Linked DNA regions of Homo sapiens. The protein of the gene in region 2 interacts with the protein of the main gene of each other region in a pairwise test. Each region holds a gene or a part of one and is shown on either strand. Other genes may lie near its edges. The genes, in order: MS4A7, EMP1 and ANKS6.

Region 1 (3,752 bases), on a different chromosome or scaffold from region 2:
TTCTTAACTGTTTGTTCTGTTTGAAAGAGTGCATAAAGTACCACCATTACAAGGGAATACAGTTTGAAGAAGAAAACAAATTAGCTCCTTAACTTTCAACTGCCACCCGATCACTCTTGTTTCCTATGCACATATTCTTTACATTCTCTCTTCCCATCTGTCACTTTATCTCTCTCCTCTTTATATATGTTCACAGACATTCACAATTCTACGGAAATAGTCATTCTATCCATGCCATTTTATAACTGTTCTTTTTGTACTCAACATTATTCTGTAGACATCTTTGACCGATGAATAGAAATAATAAAAAGCCTAAATTTAAAAGCAAATGATAGATTCTGATACATGGCACAACATGGATGAACCTTGAAGACAATATGGCAAGTGAAATAATCCAGTCACAAAAGGACAAATATTGTATGATTCTACTTATGTGAGGCACCTAGAAGAGTCAAATTCACTGAAAGTAGAATGGTGGTTGCCAGGGGCTGGCGGGAGAGGGGAATGGAAAGCTATTGTTTAATGGGCACGGAGTTCCAGTTTGGGAAGACAAGAAAGTTCTGGAGTTGGGTGGTGGTGATGGTTGCACAATGGTGTGAATGTGCTTAATGCCACTGAACTGTACACCTAAAAATGGTTAAGGCTGGGTGCAGCGGCTCATGCCTGTAATCCTAGCACTTTGGGAGGCCGAGGCGGGCAGATCACCTGAGGTCAGGAATTCAAGACCAGCGTGGCCAACATGGTGAAACCCCGTCTCTACTAAAAAAATACAAAAATTAGCCAGGCATGATGGTGAGTGCCTGTAATCCCAGCTACTCAGGAGGCTGAGATGGGAGAATCGCTTGAACCTGGAAGACAGTGGTTGCAGTAAGCCGAGATCACGCACTCTAGCCTGGGTGACTGAGCAAAACTCTTTCTCAATTAAAAAACAAACAAACAAACAAACAAAAAACAACAAAAAAACACATGGTTAAAAGGCTACAATTATTTTAAGCATATTTTACTACAACCAAAAAGCCAAATGGTATATTTAAATAAATGGAGGTCTCTAGATTCATTTAATCAATCACATGTTCATGACTATTTAGGTGGTTTCTATTTTTTCTTTTTGCCACTATGAACAATGCAATAATGAACATCTTTGCACTTTTGTGATACCTCCTGCATTTAATTATCTCACAGTGATGTATGGAAGTGGAATTATTACATTTAAATCTATGACACTTGAATTTAGATACACGTTGCTACTTTTAGAAGGAATCCTATATAACCAAGATTCTTTATGTTTCACAAAAGTCTCCAGACTGATGCTATCATCTCCAAACACCACAGTCTGAGAGGATGCTTTGTCCTTCCACATTCGCCTTGAGGAGATAGACTGGAGGGACCCACAGCTTTCAAGACAGCTCTAAAATCCGTGCTTTGAAGATAAATCATGACATGGAGGTCAACAGCTCTGCCCAGCAATTTTCTGTATTACAGAATTAGAGTAGGACCATGGGGTTCTAATGCAAGATTCAGTCTAATTGCACAGTATTTGTTGAGAGTAGACTCTGTAAGACTGAGTGACACACCAGGAGAATGCAGAACATTGAGGAAAATCACCTCAATGAGGGAAACCTAAGAATGGTTTTACCCAATTTTCTTATTTGACAAGTGAGTAAACTGAGACCCAAAAAGGGGACTGAGCTGACGCTCCAACTCACACAGGTGGTCAGAATCAGAGACAGGATGATAATCCAATTCCCTGGCTGTCTTTTCAAAAGCACACAATCTTCCCCAAAAGTCATGATCTAAACCAAGGTGTCTACCTGTTCTCGCAGCCTGGTCCTGTGTGCTGTGGCTGGGGATCAGCTCACCTCTGGGGAGCGCTCAGCTGGAACCTCCCACTGGCTGTTCCTGCCAGAACGATCTTGGTGCTCTGCTCTCCAGCCTCTGAGACTTCCTGTCCCTTTCTTAGAGCAGTATTTATGATTACACAGGATGTGAATTTTGCTGTAGTTACAGACAGTTGATATATAAAAAGTGCCTCTGCTTCCTCTTTCTAAATTCTGAGGTCTGGCAAAATGACACAAGATAGAAGTGACACATGAGAAAAAGACCTTTGTGCAGACTAGTGATTTGTACGGTCCCAGTTAAAATTCATTTTCCCTACTCCTACATAGAATTATTTAAGTCATCTAGTTTTGCTTAGCCTGAGTTTTCTTGTCTATTAAATAAATGGTGGATGGATAATAATAATTCCACTCTGTGGGTGTTGGGAGAATTAAAGAAAAAAGATGCAAAGAGTTTACAAAAAGTAGACAATAAATATTGATAATAGTAATGTTAGTTTTGAATTTTGGAGAATCTATTCTCTCACTTTCCAGGCTCTTGGTAAGCTGAAAGCAACCTGTGGAAAATTCCGTGTCTCCTTGTTACTTCTTTTGGGTGTTTCCATTCTCCATCTTTGGCCTCATGCTCAGGGAAGTCCAGGCACATCTTGGGAAAGATGCCAGTGGATTGGCCTCAGAGGCAGAGTCATCAGGCTCCACACAAGCTCATATTTGGGGAAGTATTTGTTGTTGAGGGGACACTGTTGCCACTTTCACATCCCTTTTAAGGCTTCTTGTAGACTAGCCATTGTTCAGAAGGGTAGGGTTTAAGATGGCTCTGGGACATGCAGCAGCTGGCGGCACAACATGCTCCATATACAGTCTCCATTTCCTGAAGGGTGGCAAGGCTATCCCCTAAGAGAGGAGCAAACCTAAGCCTGGGAGATTTAAATAACTCATAAACTACTTGGAGGGTATTTTAGTCCAGTTCTTCTCCAAATGAGGTGATATTGCTGAAGGAATCTGCCCCCAGTCACATGTCTAGTCTGTGGAAGAGGCAGGAATCTAATTCACATCTCTTGGCACTGAGGTCTGGGCTTGCTTCATGGCAAGAGTCTGCCATTTGGTCAACATCTTTTTTTTTTTTTGAGATGGAGTTTTTTGCTCTTGTTGCTCAGGCTGGAGTGCAATGGTGCAGTCTCAGCTCACTGTAACCTCCACCTCCCAGGTTCAAGTGATTCTCCTGCCTCAGCCTCCCCAGTAGCTGGGACTATGGGTGCCCACCACCATGCCTGTCTAATTTTTGTATTTTTACTAGAGACAGGATTTCACCATGTTGGTCAGGCTGGTCTCGAACTCCTGATCTCAGGTGATCCACCTGCCTTGGCCTCCCAAAGCTGGGATTACAGGTGTGAGCCACTGTGCCCAGCTTAGTCAACATCTTCATATCCACAACAAGCACTGTCTTTGCTTAAGAAAACTTCCAGGATCCAGACCTTCCTCTGGGTCTATGACCTGTTTTGACCAAATTGTTAAAGAACCTTGGTCATTTGGGCTTCTTTCACACTTCTGAGCCTCAGAAGGAATTCGTGAGAAAATCAGTTAAATATCCAGTTCACTTTCTCATAAAATTTGAAAAAAGATTTTTCAGAATTGTTGTGAGGATTAAGTCAAATAACATAAAAGTCCCCACCATAGAGCCTGACATAAATGAACCATTAAGAAAATCTGGTATTTCTTGTCCAACATCTTCTCCCACCCCCTTTAGAGAAAAGTGTATTTTATCTCTAGATTGATCTCTGATCTCTAAGTGTAATCTATGTTTACTCTAAATTCATGCTCTTTTCCATTGATGGAAATCTCCTCAGCCCTTTGCAAACAGTCCTGGTGCTCTAGACAGGCAAGTGACTCACAGTCCTAGTGCCTACTTCAAGGATA
Region 2 (3,752 bases):
AATAAAGGAAGTGTGAAGGATACACATGGGGGAGGCTATTCTGATTTATGTCAGCTACAGAAGGAGAGCTTTGTCATGCCTAAGACTGTCACAAAGCAGTGCAGGCTCAGAGGGACATCAAAAGGAAAGGGCTTGAGGTTATTCACACCCTAGACAGAATGGATGTGTGGATGCCCCAACCAAGGGAGGAGATGGCCAGGCGCATCCTGCAATTGTTCCACTGCCCTCTCTCACTCCACCTAATTTAATTGATGCTTTGAATGTGCTTGAGGCACTTTCATGCCACATCAGGTATTTATTAGAGAGCACTGATACTATAATTCCAACACTTCACATGCCTTTTATCTCCTCTCACTGTCTTTATCAGGCAACCAAAAATCTAGAGTGATCTAATATACATCAGGGTGCCTTGCTCTCTGCAAGCAAGGAATGAGAGGCAGACAATGGCTTCCACCATTCTCCCTGACCGTCTCCAACAGCCCCTTCCCAATCTGGCCACTTCCTTCCAACCCAGGCTGTTTTTTAGGAATGTGTCCAACTTAACTGTGAATGCAAAAATTATGACGTTTATCCTGCCTCTTCAGGGGAGAGGTTGGAGCTTTCATGTCTGCTATTAGTAATCCCCCCACACATTCAAATTCATTTTTGCTTTTCTCAGGTTCTAGCACACCTCCCCAATTTTCTGCTTGACTTAAATGCACAGTAAAAAGAGATTTTTGAATCAGACAGAGGATGAATTAGAATCATATCCAGTTATTTGACCGCTCATCTGTTTCCTCATTTAGAAAGTGGAAGTCGCAATGTCAATTGCAAAGGGAAATGTGAGGATGAATTCAGATTGTTTATGTAAAACACCTAGTGTCTGACACATGGCAGCTACTAATAATGGGGTTGCTTTAGCTGCGGTTATTATTATTACTATTATTCATAAGTGAAGCCGGGTAGCTGTTGCCAACCCAACCCAGTTACTCAATCGCTAGGCTGCCCCATGTTAAGTGCAAGTAATAAGATATCTGCTGTCTAGTTCACGAGGCAGGGTGTATACAATCCTTTCGGTCCTCTTAGAAATTGTCATTTGTCTAACCCTTGCCCCTTAAGGGGGGAGACCTCTAAGAGCACACCCTCAGGAAAGACCAGGAGAAAGTTCACTTTCTCAGCCCAACTTCCTCATACCTCCCAAGATTCACACCTCACCAGATCCTGATCTCCTTGCCCCCTATGGGGAAAGGAACAGGCTGATTGCAGGGAATTACAAATATTACATAACGAATACTTATGTTTAATCCTCCTCGGGCTCTTCAAATGACTTTCTTGTTCCTGTTGCTTCTAATTTACAAACATCCTCTTCTTAAAAGGGGGAAGGGCTGGAGGGGCCAATGACAGAATATAATCCACCAAGTGAGGCCACTTAAATGAGTCACAGAAAACATTCCCTCCCTGATAGGCTGTTGGGAATTCAGCAGCATTTTGTCTCCTTGGGTTGCTCTGTAACCCCTAAAGTCAAGTCTGATTTCCTCTGCCCAGCTCACACTCTCTGTCTCAATGACCCCTCCCACGGCACCTCTACCTGGGCCCATGCATCACAGCCCTGGTGGTGTGTGCGAGTGCCTGGCCCCTGGATCCACCTGACCATATGCCCTGCCCATTGCAGGCTGGAAGAATGGATGTGAGAATCAAGCAAAAGAGCGACTCTCTTTCATCTTAGATTTTTGTGATGGTGCCCTCCCTGTCTTTTCACCACGGAAAGAAGCAAAATGTCTTGAGTTAGCAAGCGGTCTTGTGCAAAACACACAGTTCTCTCTGTTTTTAGCTGCTGTATCCAGCCAGAAGGAGGGGCTGTTTAGCTTAAGCTACAACTTCTCCATCTTTTCACTGGCCCATTATTTGTCAGGTTTTACTAATATCATTCACTGTCAGTTTAGAGGGGCTTCCATTATTTTCAATGGCCTTCCCCCCAACACAGGTGAAAACAGAATGAGTTATCTTCTTGAGTTTCTGGGCTGAATCATCCCTAGTTACCCAGTCTTTACACTGTGCTAGATACCTCCTGCCCCCAGGGAAACCCTCAGTCTGGGAGGAGGCGATCACTGAGGTCTTTATGAAAAAGCCATTAGTGGTAACTAATGGGTAAATGTCTGGGCATTTATCAAATAGCAGAGTATAATAAACAGAAGAACCCCTGCTCCTGAAACTTCCACCCACCCATTACTTGCAAGGTAGCTTGTGGGGAGATTCATTCTCTGCCCCATTGTGAATCTTGCTTCATACAAAGGCACTGAAAAAAATACCATTTATGAGAATTTATACCATTGGAAGTATTGGTGGCTACTACTTATTTCTTAGCAGTGTGTTTCACTAAAACAATAGTAGACTTCTCCCTCAGCCCTCTCTAAAATGATATGGGTGGCACTCTCCAGTGGAAAGCATACCCCTAGTCCTAGTGAGGCAGCGCAAACCAAGATGCAGAGAATCACAGCATTGCAATTCTGAATACTTTGAAGCAAGACCCGCTTTTTGCAGAGCATTTGGTGCACTGAGCAGTTCCAAAGTTGTAGGGGAACGCTCATAACAGCGTTCATTTGTGGTGCTTAGACTCCCAGACCTAGGCCAGCAGAGCTTATCAATTCATTGCATTTTTAAAGAACAGGCCGTCCACTGACTTCTATGTGGATGCCAGGAACACATTTCTGTACCCACCACTGTGAGTGGAGGATGATCTCCTTCTTAAGCCTCATCTACCTAACATACATGGCACAGGGGCAGTTAGGGGCTGGGTGGGAAACTGAGGAAGGTATAGGACCCATGTATGTTGACTCTGGAGAGAAGTATTATTAAGAGAAATGGAGATCAGCACCTCGGAGCCACACACAGGTCTCTGATATCCCTTTTCTGTTCTTCTTTCTGCCCTAACGGACAGGCTTGCAGTTCCCTACCTCTGACCACCATCTTTTGTTTCTGATCACTGTTCCTCCTTTTCTTTCTGCATTGCCCAGACCACACTAGAGCAGAGGTGTCTTTGTGCTCCTAGCTCTAATGCAAACCTCACAAACACTGACCATTCAGTATTCAGATAAAGTTCTTAGCTAACAGAATAGCTAATATAGTCAGTAGAAATAACCCTGAGGGAGTTCGAGATCATCCTGGCTAACGTGGTGAAACCTAGTATCAATTAAAAATACAAGAAATTAGCCGGGCGTGGTGGTGCACACCTGTAGTCCCAGCTACTGGGGAGGCTGAGGCAGGAGAATCACTTGAACCAGGGAGGCGGAGGTTGCAAAAAGCCAAGATCGCTCCATTGCACTCCAGCCTGGGCAACAGAGCAAGACTCCGTCTCAAAATAAAATAAAATAGAACCCTGAGGATTAAAATTGCTCGTGACTATAGCTCTAAAGGACTAACTAATATGAGACATGAGGGAAGGGAAAGAGGGATAACCAAACCTCTCAAGTTATCTCCATCCATTTAAATCTTTATTGGCTTCTTGCCTCCCTCTTACACACCACACACACACACACACACACACACACACACACACAAATGAAAGAATCAAAGGAACACAGCCCTGAGACTGCCATGCATTGCCTTGTTGCCTTTGTTCAGGCAGCCTAACACTTTTAGGGTTCTCTGACCAGTGAGAAATTACTCAGGCCCCCATGGGAGCCTTTCCTTTTCTGGTGGGTAACTAAATCTGCAGAGACTTTGAGAAGAATTGACTTCTAAGGACCAGAAGGGAAGTTTAGAGGTGCATAATT
Region 3 (3,752 bases), on a different chromosome or scaffold from region 2:
GTTTCTTTATGAAAAACCTATTATCCTGTGGAACTAGGGTTCCCAGGAGCATACTTTTGGGAAATGCTGGTGAAGGTTGCCAAGCAAGGGAGGTGCTTCTTGTGGGGGGAACAGCCACAGGCAGGCTGGGGACACGTGTGGGAAGGGAAGGGGGTGATCAAGGACCAAAAATCAGAAAAACAAGCACCCAACTGACCCCTCCTCCCTGACGATCTATAACCTACATGTTCCGTGCTGCCTCCACACATGCCCCCGCTGGGGTGCCCTTTCTCTTCCCTGCCTACCAGCCGCATCCAAACATCCCCAGAAAGGGTGCCAGGGACCTCTTGTGAACCAGCACACAAACTTCCTAGGATGAAAAGCCTTGGACACTTGAGTCCAGTGAAAAAGAAAGGAAAGGCATTGTCTGGAGCCTCTGCTGTCCTGTCTGCAAAATGGGAATAGCCCCGCTCTGTCCAGGGTCATCCAATGAGTTCATGGAGGTCTACATTTGTGAAAAGGTGACCCCCCGGTGCAGCTGTGTATCATTGTTCAATCAAACTTACCTGAGTGGAAGCTATACCAGTATATTGTTATGAAAAAAACAGGACCACAGCAAAAAGCAGGCACAAAACCTCAAAGCACATAACGTCAGGGGCCATGAATTTCAGAGGCAAACAATTCTAGGCCTACTGTTAACCCCTGAAGCCATCAGTAAATTAAAACAAGAATCACAAGTGCTTCTAGCTCCAGGAGTCTATAGGAGTTAGTGGAAAAGGCACAGGCTTGCAAGCCCACCAGGTCCGGTTCTGACCCCAGATCTGCTCCTTCTGGGCTGTTTAACTGGCAAGCTGCTTCCCTCTCCTAAGCATCCGTTTCCCGAATGTGCAAGATGAGGTTACACAATGCCACCTCCAGGGTGGCCATGAGGATGAAATGACAAAGGTAAAGCTGCCAGCACATAGTAGGGGATGAATGAGTGTGTCTCCTTAAAAAGGCTGGGACATTAGTAACCTTTGTAAAGGTGTCTATCAGTAACAGCTAAATGAAACACTTTGTCTTCAGTCCTGTGGAAAGTTGGCTTCTGTGAGTGTAAGGCTGAGAGAATTTAAAGGAAAAACACCCAACCATCAGGGCAGGGGAAGAAAACTACGAGGCTCTGGGCAGTAAGTTAACGACAGCCTCTGAAAGCCAGCATAGGGGAATGGGCTTTCATGGCTGGGGGAGGGACAGATGAGAGATGGCACCTCCCAAGGAGACCAACTTGTGGCTCAGCATGGCTCAAGGTAGAGATCAGAATTCTGTGCAGCCTACCATCGACTGGGTACTTCCTGCAGACCCAGCACTTTGGGCATACTGGTTCTAAGCTCCAACTAAGAGGCCATTGAGCTTCATCTGAACTTTGAACCTGAGTCCAGAGCACAAGGTCTGCCCACTCTACCATGCTGCCTCTCAATGTCGGGACCATCTATTTACAGGTGTTCTCTTGCCTGTCGAGAGCCTGAAGGCTCTGTATTGTGTCTGCACACTTGGCACCTGGTAGCTAACATAAATGCAACAAGCACTGGCTGAATGAGTCATTCACTGGAAAACACTTCAGAAAGCCAGTGGGTTTTAAAAGTCAGGGCCCCTCTAATTTAATAAAATATGATATGGTAGGAAACTACACAAGCCAATTCCCTTTTGAGGAACACAGCATTAATAGGATGTAGACAAAATTCCAAATTTTCACTTCTTTGCCTAGAAACTTTGAGCACCAGAGACCTTTACACAATGTGACCCATTAGCCTTCTGCTTCCACTTTCAGTGCAGAAAGCCCTGCAGTGATACAGGTGAGCACTGTGGAGTACCAGAGCATCATCTGGTCTGACCTTCCACTTTGCAGATAAGGAAACTGAAAGCTAGGAAGAAGAAGGGATCCACACAGCAGGCCTCCACTTCTTTCCTTCTATAATAGACTCTCTTTGCAATAAAGAAAAATGCGTTTGACATACACATCTCCAATGTAAGCTGTATGCAGCAGGTGCAGTGGAATGCTACAGCAGTCACATACACAGCACTAAGGGACCCAGTGGCTGAAAGGGGGTCAAAAAAGACTTCATCTGAGAGGTGACTTGGACTAGGAGGGGCAAGTTAGAAGTTTTAAGGGAAGATGTGCCAGGAAGGCTAACCTCTCACCATAATACATACCCCCCATCTAAGTCAAAAGTTGTTGCTGGGAAGCCACTATGTGGAGACTGCACATCCTGGCCTCCTCTGCATCCAGGTGGGGCCACATGACTACCAGTGGCCAAGAGGACGTGAGCAGGAGTGATGTGTGTCAGTTAAGAGCAAGGCAGGTAAGAAGCAGCCGTGCCTTCTCCATCGTCCCTTTCCCTTGCCGCCAGCCAGAAGCAAACTCTGAGGCTCCCGGGGAGGGCAGAGCACAGGATGAAAGGAGCTGAGTCCCTGCATCACTGTGTGAACCAACCTGCCAAGCAGAAGCACCCCCACTGGACTGTTACATGGGAATCTGTCTCTGTGTGTTGAAGTTTGTTGCAGCAAGAAGTACTACCAATGAATGCCGTCGACGTGAAGTGGGCATCCCGAGCAAAGGGAACAACATGACTAAGGCACAGCAGTGTGACGGGGGCAGGGCTGGGGCTGTGGCCACGTGAAGGGGTCCCGGGATTCAGAGAGCTCACGCTGGTGGCTGCGGGAAGGAGGATCACGCACAGGGGCTGTTGCCAGGGGCCCTGGTGTTGCTGGCACTGCTCTCAAAGGAAGAGTGAAAGTTGTGAATGGTTTCCTGTAAAATTTGTCTCTCGCGTCCCTGTGGAGGAAATTGAAAACAGACACAGAAAGTCTTATTAAACCTTTTAACCATTAATTCAATTGACACAGTGTTGTTAATGTTCAACTCATACTTCAAAAACCCATGGGCGTCTTGGGGAAAATAAATTACCTAACTGAAAGAGTACCGAGTTCAATAAAAACATACTGAGTCAGAATCTCCCCAGTACCCACCATCGCAGCCTGTCAATGCTGGAGAGGCCCTGGGATGCAGGACCCCAAACCCCTGGACAGAGTGGGAGGCCGAGTCCGGGGCAGGACTGACTTCTCCCGAGTCGCACGGCCCGGATTCGAGGTCTCCTTTCCTGCGCCTCTGTGCATCTTTCCAGTCCTTAGATTTCCAGATAATTCAATGGGAGCCAAGTGTCCTTCTGCTACAGGATAAGAGTTTAAACTGCCTTTGCTTCCCTTTGCCCAAAAGCTGCCGGATTTGTCTTCACAGAGATTCACTTCTCACTCTATTCCTACAACGCCCCCTGCCCCCTATACACACATTTTCAGATGAGAAAAGAGGGTGGATGTGAATGTTCTGTTAAGCCCAGAAAACATCATCACTGCATTCCAGGCTCGGAGGCAGCAATACTCAGAGGTTAAGAACAGAGACTGCGTCCTAGCCAGAGCAATCAGACAGGAAGTCAAACTGTCGCTGTTTGCTGATGACATGATCGTTTACCTAGAAAACCCTAAAGACAGCTCCAGAAAGCTCCTAGAACTGATAAAAGAATTCAGCAAAGTTTCTGGATACAAGATTAACGTACACAAATCAGTAGCTCTTCTATACAACAACAGTGACCAAGCTGAGAATCGAATCAAGAACTCAACCACTTCTATAATAGCTGCAAAAAAATAAAAAAAAAAAATACTTAGGAATATACCTAACCAAGGAGGTGAAAGACCTCTACAAGGAAAACTAGAAAACACTGCTGAAATAAATCATAGAT

The links.
Region 1: the proteins of EMP1 (region 2) and MS4A7 interact in binary tests that used the Homo sapiens proteins (3 or more experiments, as listed by UniProt).
Region 3: the proteins of EMP1 (region 2) and ANKS6 interact in binary tests that used the Homo sapiens proteins (3 or more experiments, as listed by UniProt).

The regions. Positions count from the first base shown.
Region 1 is NC_000011.10:60,376,724-60,380,475, reverse strand, and holds the start of MS4A7 (membrane-spanning 4-domains subfamily A member 7), read right to left. Parts: upstream 1,945-3,752; 5' UTR 1,812-1,944; intron 1-1,811. UniProt on the Homo sapiens protein: May be involved in signal transduction as a component of a multimeric receptor complex.
Region 2 is NC_000012.12:13,206,712-13,210,463, reverse strand, and holds part of EMP1 (epithelial membrane protein 1), read right to left. Parts: intron 1-3,752.
Region 3 is NC_000009.12:98,733,833-98,737,584, forward strand, and holds part of ANKS6 (ankyrin repeat and SAM domain-containing protein 6), read right to left. Parts: intron 2,792-3,752; coding exon 2,687-2,791; 3' UTR 1-2,686.